Linked DNA regions of Homo sapiens: region 1 is linked to region 2. Evidence: fine-mapped expression QTL. Tissue or cell type: visceral fat. Region 2 holds a variant in brackets; the other region holds the start of a gene. All regions are shown on one strand. Distances are between the middles of the regions.

Evidence for each region. PIP is the estimated chance that this variant, and not a neighbour inherited with it, causes the effect.
Region 1: it holds the start of PTCHD1, and the variant in region 2 is fine-mapped to the expression of PTCHD1 in visceral fat (GTEx, PIP 0.98).

What each region holds. Positions count from the first base shown.
Region 1 is chrX:23,331,046-23,339,199 of GRCh38, reverse strand. It overlaps PTCHD1 (patched domain containing 1), which reads right to left and starts at 4,351. Exons shown (of 3, transcript NM_173495.3): 1 at 3,974-4,351. The coding sequence starts at 4,324.
Region 2 is chrX:23,367,500-23,375,688 of GRCh38, reverse strand. All of the region lies in intron 1 of PTCHD1 (patched domain containing 1), which reads right to left. Among named protein-coding and RNA genes, the nearest start is that of PTCHD1, 37 kb to the right of the region's middle. The variant C/G (reference allele first, on the strand shown) is at 3,080.

The sequences.
Region 1 (8,154 bases), 36 kb after region 2:
TCGTTTTTATGGAATTTTCTTTAACTCATCACATAAATGTCTGAGTAAACTAGGGAGGGTCTATTCAACAAGTATTTATTGAGTAGCTATTATGTGCCAGGGAGTGTGTAAGGCACTAAAGTTCAGTCAACCTGGACCCTGCCAATGAGCAGCACTCAATCAGGAAGCAGCTACATTCAATCATCCAGAGATTTTTTTTCCAAAAAAATCTTCTTTCTATCCTTGTATATTGTTAATTATAAATATCTTATGCTTTACTTTGGGTATTTGGAGTTTCTGTATGTGGATTTTAATTGACACTAGACAGAATCAGTCAAGAAAAATATTCTTATGATCCAATTACCACTATTAGAACAACTGGATGGGATGGGATATAAAACTTTGGTCAACTGTACTTCATTTGGATAACAAAAATGTACATTTTAAATCATTCCAGTAGTGTATCATATGAAAGTAAATTACAATGAAAAGCACACTGGGCTTGGAGTCCAAAACCCTGGGTCCAGTCCAGTCCTGGTTCTAGCCTTGTATTTTTTCCCATGGACAAGTCAGTTAACTTCTAAGAAGTAGTTTTCTCATATGTAAAATGGGATATAGCATTTTTCCCAATTTACTGTATTTAAACATACTGTATATTTCTAACCTATAAAGTCCTATAAAGATGATGTCATTATCATAAGTACTGGGCTGTACTGATTCTTCACTTTAAATAGATGATTCCGGAATAAATCAAGAATTGTTTTGTTAACAGCCTGGATCAATTATCAAAGGGACCTACTTACACTTCATTTTAGGTGATCGCAACGAAACGTATCTATAAAAGCTTGTGAGGCCCTCCTTTGAAATTTGCTTTGAGATGAACATCATGGATCTTCTGTTAAAAGATATAATCAGCTAAATTTAATTTTCTAGGAAAAGGAAGATGTTTGAAGAGCAGCATGTATGTAAAGAGGTTCAGAAATTACTGCATGAGCCCTTATCAGCACCACCAGGTCCTACCCACTTTTGCCTAATAATGCATCGTTGCCCTGTAGCCTTCAGGGGAAACCAACGCTGGGGGGAGTCATGCCTCACAGTGTGGGGTCAACTTCTAAGCTACAGTGGTCAGAGTATGGTAATCATATCACTTGCGCATATTCGAGAAAGCTCCTCCAAACCAGATCAGCTGGATTTTTGAAATACAGATATTTTTCTGTAATACTCTCAATTACATTTAAAAACGTCAACCTGGCTTTTCGTTTTCTGTCATCACTCCCTCCCAGTCTATTTTTTTTTTGTCAGCAAATAGTGGGACCAATATCCCAAGAAGGATCTCCTTCACTGCACAGGTACAATCCCAAAACATTAAGAGGAGAGAATGGGTCTACTCTTCATGCTTGAAGCAACACCCTACACAGCCCTACAAGTCACCTCCTCAGTTCTGTACTGGGGTATGAAAAAGCCTCAGACCTGCTCATGCTCTGTCCACTTCACTTCATTTCAAATGTGACGCCATAAAACCGGCAGGGGGCAGGGACTGTTGGGTGTTGTGTAGTGTTAACTGTCAATGCTATCCTTGATGCCAGTAACGAAGCATCAGAATAACACTAGTAACAACAATAACAGTGATTCTTTCACTCCTGACACCTTTCCTAAAGGACAAGTCATCATGTCTCTAAATGAAAAAAATTAAAAAAAAAAAAGTGCTCACTCCCACACTTTACATTACCATGACTAATGAAGGTCCATCTTCCTGTCCCCTGGCTCCATATCTACCAAAAGTAGGGGCTGGATGCAGAAAGAAAAAATTAAACATATAATTTAAAATTGAAGACAGTTATTTCCTTGGTTCCGTAAGTCTGGATTTTTATAAGCTGTATGAACTCATTTGACCAGAGAGTCATCAGCTAGAAATAAGTTCGGACCACTGCTAGGCTTGGTTTTGATTTTACTCAGACACCTAGAAGATGAAAAACCATCCCAGTTCTTAAAACAATCCACTGATTTTTGACCATTGTCCTTTAAAGTTGCCCTTTAGATATGGAGGCAAACCAAGCCTCCGTCTCTCCAGTCTCAACCTTCTCCTATAGCACTGTTTTCTGTCCTGAACTGATCAAAATCAAATAGGGAAGAAGTAATCCAGTTGAAAAGAGATCTGATAATGCTTGTTGATGTCTCATTAACCTTGAGAGTGACTGTAACTGGTGACTGCCTGTCACAGTGGTGTGATGGTTTGTGGGTGGGGGGGGAAAGGCAATGGAAACGTCACCTTGAAAAAACACAAAAAGAGAAATATCATTTAGTAGATCATCAATCAAAAGACGGGGCATTTCCAACTGTCAGAACTGGTTAAATTACAGTTTCCTTATGCCCATGATGAATCTACTATGTGTTTTCGTGGGAAAGCTTTTGGAGCAGTATTTATCTGTGTCCCAAAATATAGTCACTAAAGTATTGAGAGAAAAAAGAAAACCACTTTGATGCTGGAAGTCTAATCATGAGAAAAACAAACATCTCGGGATTAATGTTATTAAGGTTCTGTGATGAGTAAATGTGTGATGTGTGCCATTAAAAATATCATGAGCCACTCCATGTGGGAAGATCCTAATTCCATTGAGCCCCTAGTCAGATTCCCCTCATTACTAATTGCTAATTGATAACATGTCAACAAACGGACATAGGAAAATAATGAAAATTAGCTTGTCTCTAGGGATAAACTATTACCTGTAGAGGAAAAGAAGAGGAAAGAGTTCCCCAGGTTTCCCGGCAGACTCCCCTTGGGATAAGTAGACTAGAAATCTAACCAGCCTCTAGTACCAGATCTGGACTAGAGACTCACACAAAACGATCACCTTCCATCCCTCTGCACCAGAGTCCCAGCTGGGACTGGTTCTTGTCTGCCCTCCCCAAAGGAGAACCTTAAGTAAACAAGCCCCACAGTCCCCATCAGGGATTCAGATGGAACATTCTCACCTATTTTTACTTTTCTCTCCCGAGGTCTCCACTTTTCCATCTCTAGTCCTCACTCCTCTGCTTTTCTTAGGAAGTTCCTGAAAGTTACCACCATTAACCTCACTTTCCACATCAAATTCCCACCTCAAGCTGATGGCACAACCGGTTTCTGCGAGTGTCACCCTCTAACCAGCTGCTCGGTTTCCTGTGCTCTTCTCGGGGTCACACAGCCTGGCTTCTGTTCTCACCCTTCGGGCTCTGCCCCTCACCCCCATGCTCAGATGCACCCAAATAAAAGTGGATTGATCGGTTCCCTCTTTTCCCAAAGTTTTGGCATTTCTTGAGGAGCTACTGTGAAAGACGAAGGAACTGCGAATTACAAACATAATTTCATACCCTAGAAGATAGAGATGGCTACCTCGCTCCGGAGAAGAGAGCAGCAGGGCAGCCCCCTGTCCTCGCCAGAGACCACACTTCTTTCTGGGTGGGTGGGAGGCATCTTCATCACCATCCCGCCTCACATTCTTTTGTCCTTTCCCAACATCCCACACCAACAACCGTTCCCCAAACACTCCGGGGGGCCAGAAAAAGGGAGAAACAAAACTGAGGACAGGGAGGGGTATCTCGGAATCCCCTCCAAGCATAGTATTTTGTTCTCAAGTAGTAGGACTTTCCAGAATGTCTTCTCTCGTTCTGCTCCTTGCTGGCCCAGTTACCCCAAAGCCTCCCCACCCCCAAGCCCACTGCGACCAAAACAAGCGCACCGACCACAGCACTGTGGCCGCCGCCGCCCCAACTGTTGCAGCAGCTGCGGGGTGGCGGTAGAGGCGACGCGGGCAGGGCCGGACCCGGACCCCGACGCTCCTTGTCCAGGAGGCTGGGAGGCTCCAGTCGGCCGCCCTGGGGCGCGCGGTGCAGGAGAGTCCCTGCGGCAGCTGCCTGGGCTAGGAGAGGTGGCGCTCTCAGCCGGGACCCCAGCGCAGAGCCAGCCCGACCGCGGCCGCGGCGCTGGCGGAGTCTGCCCGCACCCGTCCCCTCTCACCTTTAAGATCAGGTCGGTGTGATGCTGGTCCAGCATGTTGGCTTTCTGGAAGGAGGTGACGATGACCCGGCCGTAGCGCCCGGGGGTCTGCAGGTCCGAGTAGAGACGGTGCTTGGAGCGGTTGACCGGGAAGAGGCTGTTAACGAGGTTGCGCTCGATCTTGGCCAGGCTGTGCTGGGGCGCCAGCAGGTGCTCCACGCTCTCCTCGACCTGGTAGCGGCTGAAGCTGGCGCCGAGCAGGATGGAGATGAGCACCGGCGCCGAGGCGAAGAAGACAGGGTGACTGGCAATGAAGTGGCCGAGCCGGGAGAAACACGTCCTCAAGCCCCTGTGCAGAACCTGCCGCAGCATCCTAGAGCAGAGCGGGCGCGGGAGGAGGGCGAGGCGCACGCTCGGCGCGGGTTCGGGCGGCGGCGGCGGCGGCGGCGGCGGCGGCGGCAGCGGCGCCCGCGGCGGCGGCGACGGCGGCGGCGGCGAGACCCTGAGCTCTCCCGGAGCCGCGGCACCACCATCGGGGAGTCCCGCGCCGCGCCTCGGGAGGGTCCCCTCGAGCCGGAGACACGCCCTCCTGCCCGCGGCCGCGCCCTCCCGGAGAGCCCCCCAGCTTGGCGGCCTCTGCGCCGCCCCCACTCCGCCCTACCGCGTGCGCCCTCCCCACCCCCCGCGGCCTCCCCGCCAGGGGGGCTCCGCGCCGCGCGGCCGCGTCCCCTCTCAGCGCGGGCGGGGCCCGGGGCAGCCCCCGCGGCTCGTCATGACCCCACTCACCCGACCCCCAAGGCCAACGACGGGGTGGCGCGGGGAGCGGCGACGGCGCTATCGCCAGGAGACTCTGCGCGCCCGCCCAGGAACACGAGGACGGAGAATTCCAGGCTACACCCAGTCCCCTCCCCTCCCTTCGCTCCCCTCCCCCGGTCCGGCCCGCCAAGCTCGCTCTCCCCTTCTCTGCCCTCCTCCGGGAAGACCCAGAGATAAATAAAGAAATGGCCCCGATTTTCCAAACAAAAAGTAAAGAGTTCTCAGGAGTGGGGGGAGGGGGCGGGTGTCGGGCGGACCCGCTCAGAGCCGAGTCTCTCCAGAGGCTTAAAGGAGCAGGCTGAAGACTGCGTGCGTCCCGGCTCTCGCCAGGCTCAGGTGGTGGCGCGCACTGGCTGGTGCCGAGAGGGGGTGGGGAGCGAAGACGCTCGAACGTGGAAATCACGCCTCCTTCCAAATAAGAACCGTTTAAAATACCCCCAACACTGCAGCTTCGGCGGGACCACGGGGTCCGGGTGTGTGTCTGGAGCACGTCCACTCAAAAGGTATCCGTGGAGAATCTTTCTCTGTGGCTCTAATTTAGGGTCGCTCCAGAGTGGATTGGGGCTGGCCAGCTCTGTTGCACACCCCCCAACCTCCCACCCAGTCCTTTAGTAATAAAAGTGCTGATAATGACGGTCAGTCGATGGAACTGTCCGTCGCCTGGGCTCCCGGGCTCCCGAGCTCCGGGGCTCCCCGGCTCCCGGTTCTTCGCCCTGCCTTCTCTTCCTCCTCCTCTCTCTGTCGTCACCAGCAGGTCTGGGGGACCTGGTGCGGCGTGGCTGGCGCGGGCGCCCCTGCGGGCGTAGAGTGTTTGAGAAAGGCTGGCCAGGGAGTCAGTAGCATTAACCCCCTTCTCTGCCTCACTCCGCCCTCTCCTCCCCTACATGCGAAGGTGTGAGAGTGGAGGGAACCTTATCTCAGAGCAGGAGAGATACAGGTCTCCGAGCGTGTTGAGCCGCAGGGGGCGCGGGGGAGCCCGCGGGGCGCCGACGGCTTGGCAAAGTTGGGCGTGTGCGTGTGCGCGCCAGCCGTGAGCTAGCAGGCAGTCACCGTGGTTCCCCTCGCACTCCCCCTCCGGAGAATTCCCCGAGAAGGCGGGCGCCGGCTTCGGCCCCGGGATAGACCTGCGGCGGCGGCGGGAACGGCCACGCACAGGTACAATTTAGCGCGTTTCATTTCGCGCTCCAAGCTCCTGGGTCTGTCCACTGCAACGCAGACCGAGCGGGATCTCGGAGTCTGGGTCACTGAGGCGCTCTCTCCAGCCAGGGGGGTGGGATACAGGGCGCGGCGAGGGGTCCTCAGACTCCGCGCTCTGAGCGCTCAGCCTCCCCATCCCAAGCCTTTGGTCGCTACAGCTCAGTCTCCCAGTGCCAGGGGTCGAACGGGAGGCGGTGGCCCGCACTACGGAGCATAGACATGCATATTAATCAAAGCTGAAGGAAGACGAATAGGGACAGGAAGAGGAAGGGGAGTGGGGGGGGGGGAAGAAAGAGGAGAATGGGTAGGAGAATGCGCCTCGGGGAGGCATTTCCCTAACGTTCCCATTCCAGACTCCCCTACACCTAGCGGCCCTTCACTTCTCAAACTGAACTTGGGAACTTGCACGTTGGAAACAGCAAGTCGCGGTTTGGGAAATCCTCCTTATTTGATGATCTCCTCCCTTCCCCCATACCGGACTTCCTTCCTACCTTTCCTCAGCAACACCTGCTCCTGCTGCGCTGCCCACCCCGGGGGCGCACCTGCCCTGCTCTGCTTGTGCTCCCTAGATCCTTCCACCCATTTCTCGTCCACTTTCTGTGCTCATCTTCGTTATTCCCTACACTGCTCTGTTTCCAGAGGCTCCCCGCGACGCCTAAGTCCAGCAGCTTCCAGCTGACTCCCCTCCCCCAGTATCGCCGTCCCTGGGAGGGACACATTGGAAGGGGCTAGAAATTCCCCTGCCACACTCCACTCGTGCCGTTCCCCCAGCATCTTAATTTCTGCTCGTGGAGGTGCCGCTGCTCTGCAGCGCTTTGCTGATTCACCATGATCGCGGAGGGAAAAGCCTCATTGACTTGTGCCCCTGCAAGCGGCGAGGCGAGCGCGAGTGGCTGCGAGGGCACGCGCTTTGGGAAACCACCCACCATTGCGTAGCCGAGGTGCTAAATGACAGGGTGGATGCCCTGCGTGGCTCTCAGCCCGGGCAGACGGAAAGATGGAAGGGCGGGGAGGAGGGGTGGCGGTGGGAAATACTGCGAACCCAGCTCTTTGCGACTGAGCCAGCGGCAGCTAGTGGGTGGGCACTTCTCAGGAGGCCTAAAATCGGTCGCTGCACAGGGAATGAACAGAGCTGTTTCATGTGCCCCGATGCCAGCGCAGGGATAAAAGTAAGAGAAGGAAAACCAGCCGACAGGTCTGCTTAGGTGCCTTTAACATTTTGGCGAAGCTGTTTTCATTCTGAAGTCTTTGACCCTCCGATTGGCTCCCTTCCAACCTCGGTTCGCCCTCGTCCCTAGAATTTCCGGCCTTTTAATGTCAGCCCTCACAAGGGCTGAAGAACAGAGTGCCCTCCCTCAGTGCCTGGGCTGAATCTTAGAGCGGGAGAAACTGCATTGCTCAGCTGGCCAGGGCGAGAGTGTTGTCCTCCCACACAGAAAAGGCCTTTCCTTTGGGACCAAGGCATTTGTTTCTAGTCCTCCCAACTCTATTCCTAACTGTCCTTATGTATATTTGGAGGAGCTTCTAACCTGTATGTTTCAATTTGGAGACAGAACCAACTAAGTGTGGACCTTGGGCCACCTTTTACTGCAGGCAATCCCGTTAGTGTTGTCTAAATTGAATTGGAGCAGCAGAGAGAGTGAGAGTGAGGAGAGAGGAAAGAGAGAGGAGAGAGAGGGGGAAGAGAGAGGCGAAAGAGAGGGGAGAGAGAGAGGGGCGAGAGAGAGGGGCGAGAGAGAAAGAGAGCCCACACGTAAGAGTGCAGGAAGGGTGTTGCCTCCCCCCGATTTTTCTTCTCTTTTTGTAGAAGTTCTGGGGAGCATTGCCTCCACCAACGACTTGGGTTTGCATTTGGGCCAATGACTTTGTGATCAGAGCTTTCACCAGTACGTTAATAAATTGTTACCTTTTCTGATTTAAAATTAATACATATTAATTTTAGACAATTTGGAAAGTAAGAACAAGAAAAAGAAGGAAACAAAAACACCTGTATCGGTGTACTCACACTACCTTTCAACCTTTGTCGATCATTTATTGTACACATAGGCAATATAATGTAGAAGTTGAGGCTTTTGGTTCTGTAGCCACTGAGTTGAATCCTTGCTCCACTATTTATTAGCTAAAATGCAGTGGGTAACTTTACTTTTTTATGGCACAATTTTTCTCTTCTGAAAAATGGGAATAACAAT
Region 2 (8,189 bases):
AGACCTGATTCTCAAGTCTTACTCCACAGCAGGACACTTAGCATACACCAACAAATTCAGCAGTGAGCATGAAGACAACTTGGGGGTGGATAAAGAATTGTCAGCCCGGCCGGGCGGCGCGGTGGCTCACGCCTGTAATCCCAGCACTTTGGGAGGCCGAGGCGGGCGGATCACGAGGTCAGGAGATCGAGACCACGGTGAAACCCCGTCTCTACTAAAAATACAAAAAATTAGCCGGGCGTGGTGGTGTGTGCGCCTGTTATCCCAGCTACATGGGAGGCTGAGGCAGGAGAATGGCGTGAACCCGGAAGGCGGAGCTTGCAGTGAGCGGAGATCGCGCCACAGCACTCCCGCCTGGGCGACAGAACGAGACTCCGTCTCAAAAAAAAAAAAAAAAAAAAGAATTGTCAGCCCACCTGCTTCAAGTGACTGGCAGTGGATATGATTGAGCTATGGGATGGCCACAATTGGAGATCTGGGGTCCAATAAGAGAGACCAGAAATAATCCAAACAGCTAAACTCATGTTCAGACAGCAGCAACATTACATGGCAGTATTAACAGGTAACGAAGGGGATGGGTTTAGAGTTTAACGATTTTTCTTAATCTCCATCCAGCCTCTGGTGTTGCTAAATAAAGCTTTTCAAAGACAGGCTTCCTAAGAAAAAAGGTCCTGGGGCACAATGGAATCCAGTAAGAAAAAGTTTTGGCTTCCAGTGTCGCTTCCACTACCTACCTTAAGAGTGTCAGAAACTTCAGGAATCCCACTCTGCTTCTTTAAGTCTGAAACTTCAGTTCTCATATTTATCAGTTAAAAAGGGTGTTGGTCTAGCTAATATTTAAGGACAGACCCTTCCAGTTTTAACACTACATAATTCTAAGATGAGTGATATCCACAAACTACATAATCAGACACCAGGTGAGAGAAAGTTAACTTAATAAATATCAAATTGAACATTATTACGGCTACTTGAGGTATGCTTTTCTGACACACTGAAGTTCTTTTTCAGGGCAATCCGATCTGATAGATGAAACCCAGAAGGAAAACGGTAAAGAATATAGGTTTACTGGAAAAAAAAAAAAAAAAGATTTCCCTCTCTGAGTGATTTCCCATTCTGGGGAGGCGTTGGCTCTTATAATCCCCTTCTGCCAGATCCTGGGACAAAGCCAGTGTGGGCTGCTTGGTCACGACAGGCCAGAGTCTAATTTCCTCTCTGCCTCTCCTTGGCACACTCAGATCTTCCTCAGAAGACAGCAGGGACACTTTGCAGAGGACAGTACAGAAGGGAGGAAGGATGTATCTGCTCCTGAGTGGTGATTAACACAGGAAAAATACCTGTGGGTTTAGAGGATCTTATACAATACCTTGCAGGGTTTTGGGTTTTTTTTTTTTTTTTTTTTTTTTTTTTTGTATTTGTTTCTTGTTGAAAAGGGAGGAGGGAAGGAGGAAGGCCACTCTGCCCATGCAGGGCAATTAACATGCTCTGGGGTCAGCCTCAAACAGTCCCCAAGCAATCTCATCTGTGAGGGAAGACTCGGAGTTCGTATGGGTTCCCCATGTCGCAGCAGGATGGAGCTCCAGTCACCTCCAGTGGGAGTTAGCCTGATGACACCCCCTTTATAGGCTGTCTTCCCTTCCTTGTCTCACGTTTCCACCCCCTTCCCACTTCTTCTACTCCCAAATAAGCTGCATACATTAAAAAAATGTAAAAAGGAAGATTATGATTTGACTTCTTAACCTATATCATCCGTCCCCAAATATTACCTTCCAAGTGACACAATCAAAACTGCTTAAAAATGCTTTCAAGGAATATCTGGTTTTCACCCCTAAATAAAATGTTCCCTTCACTGAATCCCTCCAAACTACATGTCTTGATCTGGGTCTATATTCTGCAACTGTAAATGGGCAGGTGCTAACTGGCAAGGTATCCTCACTCAGGACGCAAGAAAACACCTTGAAGTGGATGGATCTGGCTGCAGCAGTTCATAAATTACGCTAGCTCCCTTGGTGTTATGTTCTGTCTTTGCATGATCTCACTCTCACCCACTCTCTTTCCTCTTCTTTTAATAGAAATGCATTACATCAGAACACCAGAAGTCGCAAGTTAGGGATTGTTACCGTGATTCATTTGTAGTGCAGCCAAAAGCAAGTTAGTCATCCCTTAATAAGTGAACAGAAATATCATCCTGCCTTTGAAATATTACATTTCCAGAGGACACCAAATTTAAGCTGTGGATATAGCCAAACAAGTGACTATCTATCCACACACTTCCTCTGCACATGTGTGCCTGGTGCCATGCTCACCTGCTCCAGTGACAAAAGACAAATGGTTACCTCTGTCAGTAATGCAATGCTAGTGCAGGTCTGGGAGAGTTGAATAGTTCTGTTTTGCTCCTTACTCTACAAGGTGGTAAACACTCTTATTGCGGGTACTGACACTGAAAAGCAGCCAAGACAGCCCTTATTGTAACTCTCCAAACAAGCTGAGTTTGTCTTTGCAGGCTTGGCTGAAAAAACAAGGCAGCTTTAGATTTGAAGCAGAGAAATCTGAGATTTTAGAAACAAAAAATAGTGATGGTGAAGGAAAATGCAATTGCAGTATCTCATTGCAACTTCTGCCTGACTCCACACTGGTATGGATAAGACAGTCAGTACAGTGAACCACAGGTTCAACAATCTCTTTATTCCCGTAGTCTGGGAGAAAATTTCACTTGGTCTTGATTTGTGAAAAAATCCTTCATATTATGAAGATACTTGGCAGTCTGTAAAGTTGAACTTTCTGATTAGAATGTTTAGAGTGGCTGATAGAGTGGCTATTTTTAAATTCCCTAAATCCTCACTTGAGTTTCATGGTCAAGCTTAAGCTGTAGTTGAGCTAGCTTGTGGGTGAAGAGTTTTGTTGGATAGCTCTAAGAGGACCCGATGCTCACAGAAACAGGAGAATGTTAAAGCTGATTGGCTGGACAAATGGCAAAGGAAAGTCCCAAGGAACCAAATGTTTGGGCTTGGGAACAGGCAACAGCTGTTACAAGATTTGATTAGCAGACCACAAATAACCATGCCAGGAACAGGAAAAACAG[C/G]ATGCCAAGGACATTCAGGTCTAGAGAATGACCAACCATGGACCTGAATGGGAGGAGCACTGTATCAGGAGTCAGAAGGCTTCAATTTTAGTCCTGGTTCTGGGTTTTGCTGACCACATGACTTAGAGATAAACAAAACAATGAACCTATGAAAACACGTCACTTCCCTGCTTTAAATTCCCCTAGAGTTCCTCATCATGCTCAGAGCATTGACTTTGGCGCCTGACATGAAACATTCTCCTTGCTGACCTCTCTTCTCTGGACTCCCATCTCGCTATTCTCACATTGCAGTGCTCGTCTTGCTCTTGATTCTGCCTGGGACATTCTTCTTCCAGACACTTAAAAAACTTCTGTTCTCACTGCCTTTACTTCCCTGCTTAAATGCAATCATCTTTCCTGAGCTCACCCCTAATTTAAAAAAAAAAAAACACTAGTATGTTTGCCCATCACCATCATCTTTTCTTGTTTTAATTTTTTCATGGTACCATCATGACATGACATTATCATCATCTCTGTTTTTATTCTGCTGCCCCCATTCAAATATGAGTTCTGTCATGCCAGAATGTGTTTCTGTTTGGTCCACCTCTACATTTCCATTAACTAGAACAGTGCCTGGAACACATAACAATTGTGAAGTAAACACATGAATATAATAATCTCATGAGTAAAGGGACTTTAGTTTGTCTCATCATGGGCATGATGAAAGCCAAATGAGATGATGAGTGTGCATGCATTTTGTCAACTTTTGAGAGCTACACAAATACAATTGTATTATTATACAGCAGGAAGCATGGATGCTAGCTCCTCTGGTGAGTGGTCTTACAGCTTCCAAACATAATCTACAATTGAGTCCTGGAGCCCCTAATCCTTCCCGACTTGACAATATCTTGTGCTTTTGTGGGAGGGACATGGGTTATGAGGTTAGAATGCCACAAGTTCAAATCCTGCCTCTGTTCATAACACAGCTGGGCCCTGCGCATATCCCCTCATCCTTACCACTTCAGTGCACATATCATATCTATTTCCAGCCTGATGTGGAAATACTGGGGCACTAACATACTATCTCAATTCTAAGCAGGCTGGACCTATGACTAAAGACAGTCTGTGTATGAACAGCCCAGCTCACATGTCCTCCTAAATGGGATAACCCTACAACATGTGTTCCTCACTGTTTCCCAGAGTTCCCCAGCAGGATTAAACTCCAGTTGCCCACAGAGTAGCTGGCTTGACAATGCCTCCATAGCCGACGGCTTTTCTTCCCTGCCTCATGATGCTGTTCTCTTCTCAGTGCTTCCTGGGATTATCTTCCAAATATTGTACTCTCATGAAGTGCTTGACTCCAGGTTAGCTTCTGGGGGAGGTCCAACTAAGACAGTGAATTTAGATTTTTAATTCAGTTTTGTTATCTGAATTATGGGAATAATCCTTACCTCATAAAGTCATTATGATTACCTATAAAAGGTGTCTGGCCTGGCATTTAGTATTAGGTTAAACCATATGAAATTGCCATTTCTATAGGTTAAAAAGTAGTTGAATAGCGGCAATTTTATGTGAGTCACCTACCTGAGCTTTCGTCAGTGTTTGTTCTTTCCCCTCCTGCCTCTCCTCCTCCCCAAGAGTCCTGTCAGAACCTGAGCTTCCTGAGGGGGCTATCAGACAATTTTGTTTGGTTTCCAAGAGACAGTTTGGTGGTATCAGGGCAGGATTTTAGAAAAAAGACAACAGTTTTGGGCTAGGAAGGATCTCAGAAATCTTCTCATTCCCGTCGTTTTAACTTATGAAAAAAATCAAAATGCCATATAACCCACATCCCCAAGATATTTGAAACTGAATAATAATACTGTTAAATCAAAAAATATACAAATGTCTTCATCAGATGAGCTCTTTGGTAACATTTTTTCTTTGAAAGGATTTGCTATGTTTCTAATGGGCACTGAACTTGAGAACAATGGAAATTATGGCTGATGAAAGAAAAAATAAGAAGAAAGTTCCACCTAATGATATGGTAACAGCTCTCCTTAATGATGGACCATAAGCCTTACCAAGGATGAGTACCTGTAATTCATAAAATAACGTATTATAGGACAGTGCATTTCTTCCTGACAATAATTCTTCTCTGTTCTCAAGGTTCTCATACAAAGCTACTGCCCTTAAAAATCACAGGAGCATTTCAGCCACTGCCCTCCCTTTCCTGATCTGAAAAGAGGTCTCACAGGGCAAAAGGTCAAACTATGATAGTTTCTATGACTCGGCTTGCAAAGGCCTCGACCCTTCTGGGAGGTGCTGATGTTGGTGGCATGGTTTGGCATGATGGAATCAGACTGCCTAGGCTCAAATCCCAGCTTTGGCACTAAGGAGATGTGTGATCCTGGACACTAAGCTATTATGTAATGGCTATCCCTTGCCTCAGCTTATTCATCTGTAAAATGGGGCCAATAATAGTACCCATCTCATTAGGATTGTTGAAGGATAAATCAGAAATTGAATGTAAATTGCTCTGTACAGTCTCTGAAACACAGGTGGTACCCAGTAAATGTCTGATAGCAAAGACAAAATGAACAAACAGAAAACCCCATTTCTATCTTCTGTTGTGTCTTGTCTACTTCAACTTTCTTTTCCTTTAAATAGTGAAACTTCCTCCATTTTTCTTGAAAAGTATATTCAATGAAATGTAAAGGTGACCGATTTTTGCTCTCATCTTTGCTGAAAGACTAAGGGGTAAATGGGGTTAGAAGCATGGATCAGTACAAATATTTGAAGGGAACAGCTGGGTAGTATGTGTTTAAAGTTGGCCCTCCTTAATCCCAGTATAAGCTCCAAGTTTGAAAATTGTCCCATCATCTGCAGGTTAGCTCTCTAGTTAGATAACTGTGCACATCAATTAAAGGAATCCAGTCTAGGCAGGAAAAGATGGTAGGGGTAAAAGAAGGAAACTAAAAGGTACTAAGTGCTTGCTAAGTGCCGGACATTGTGCAAAGAATGCTACAATCTATCATCTTATTTAACCCTCACAGCAAATCAGGGAGGTAGATATTACCCCTCCATCTGCGCGTGAGGAAGCTGAGCCTCTAGGAGCTTAAATAACTTGTCCATGGCCACAAATTTAGTAAGTGGATCAGCCCAGATTTAAATCCTGGGCTCAGAAAATTGTCCCCTAATGAGAGTTCTTCTGGAAAAGTAAAGACTTTATCCCCTAATCTCTGTGCTTTGGACATTTGGATATTGATAAATTTGCTTTCTGGTATTAGGCTTAAACGTGGTCAACTCACAGCAGGAGATGGTGATGAGGTAGCAAAGTCGGGGGTCAAACATGACAAAGCAGTCTAGAAAAGCAACAAAACTCCGACCAGTACTAAACAGTAAAACCCAGTGAATGCCAGATATTTACAACAGAAACCTCAGAAAGAAGCCACAAGCCCATCACCAATGACAAGCATGCGCAAACAGCTGGAGATGAAGAAAACAGATGTGAAAAGGGAGAAGACTTTCATCAGTCAAAATAGCATCTTTTGCATCATGTATGTGTCTTTTTTTTCTTTTTTGAGACGGAGTATTTTTGCTTTTGTTGCCCAGGCTGCGGTGCAATGGCATGATCTCGACTCACTGCAACCTCTGCCTCCTGGGTTCAAGCGATTCTCCTGCTTCAGCCTCCCGAGTAGCTGGAATTACAGTTGCTCACCACCACGTCTGGGTAATTCTTTGTATTTTTAGTAGAGATGGGGTTTCACCATGTTGGCCAGGATGGTCTCGAACTCCTGACATCAGGTGATTCACCCGTCCTGGTCTCCCAAAGTGCTGGGATTACAGGCGTGAGCCACCGCACCCGGCCATGTATGTTTCTTATATAACCCCTTGACCTCAGAAACACACGACGAAAAAGAAAAAAACAAAACAAAACTTTACAGAACATATTTGTATAAAGGGGCTTGCGGTGTGTGGATTTACTGAAAATATCAGATTGAAGTTGGGGGTCTTATAGGACTTGGGTATCATCTCTCCCCACGGGGAGTTTTACACTAGAATATATATGCTTCACGACGGCAGGGATTTTGTTTCGCTCAATCCTATCCCAAGTACCTAGAGTAGTGCCTGGCACATAAAAGGAGCACAACAAAGATGTGCTGATGAAACCTTTAGTGTTTGTTCCTTCTTGCTGATTTATATTTCTCCGGTGACATTGAATGATACTTCATTTGTACCCAAAGGCTACTGTGCTACATGCATATCATTTACATCTTAAATAAACAGATGACATTGAATTTGCTCCTGTTGCTTACATGCTGCAGACAAATGGCTGATCTCATTAGACAAATGGATATGGTTAAACTATAATCTAAAAAAATAAGAGCAGAGAAACAATTTAGGTAGGCAACTGAGGTCTGAAATAATTATGTGCTATGCTTAATCATAGGGTAGTTTGAATTTTTCAAGTGTATTTGTTTTTCATATTTCCTTTTATTTTGAAAAGTTTTTTTTTTTTTTTTAAATACAGAAGTCTGGAGACTATTGTAAGAATTTCTATGTACCTACCATCCATGTCTATCTGAAGATTCTGCTCCTCCTGTTAATGCTGTTGATGGGTAGTGTGACCATATAATTTATCATCCAAACTGGAACACTTTTGGGAGTGCAAGAGGGCAGTGTTAATTTCACAGGAACAATAGGCATAAAATGGGACTATCACAGGCAAACTAGGTTGTATACCCTTCCTATCTCTGGATGTCTCAGACGATGCAAGCACTGATGTAACTTCATCTGCTTATGCCTCACAGCCGACCTGAGGTGACAGTCCTTTGGTTTGTAGCCCACTGCTGCTGATGGAACCTAGAATATTGCACGTGATACTATCCTGTCATCATAAAGGTCTCCAGGAAAATAATTTGGAAAAACTCCTCTTGTCTGTAATCACTTCCAACCACACCTATGCTCCCACTATTGCAACTTCCTTCCACGTCAAGACTCGGATGTTTTTGCAAGATTCAGTTATCCTGCAGCCTGGTTTTGCTTGCTACTTTAGAGGTGGAGTGCATCCATAGGACCCTCAGAACATTTCATCTACCTTCCCTGAGCACGCCAGCCCTACTGAAATTGACAGATAGCTTCTACTAAG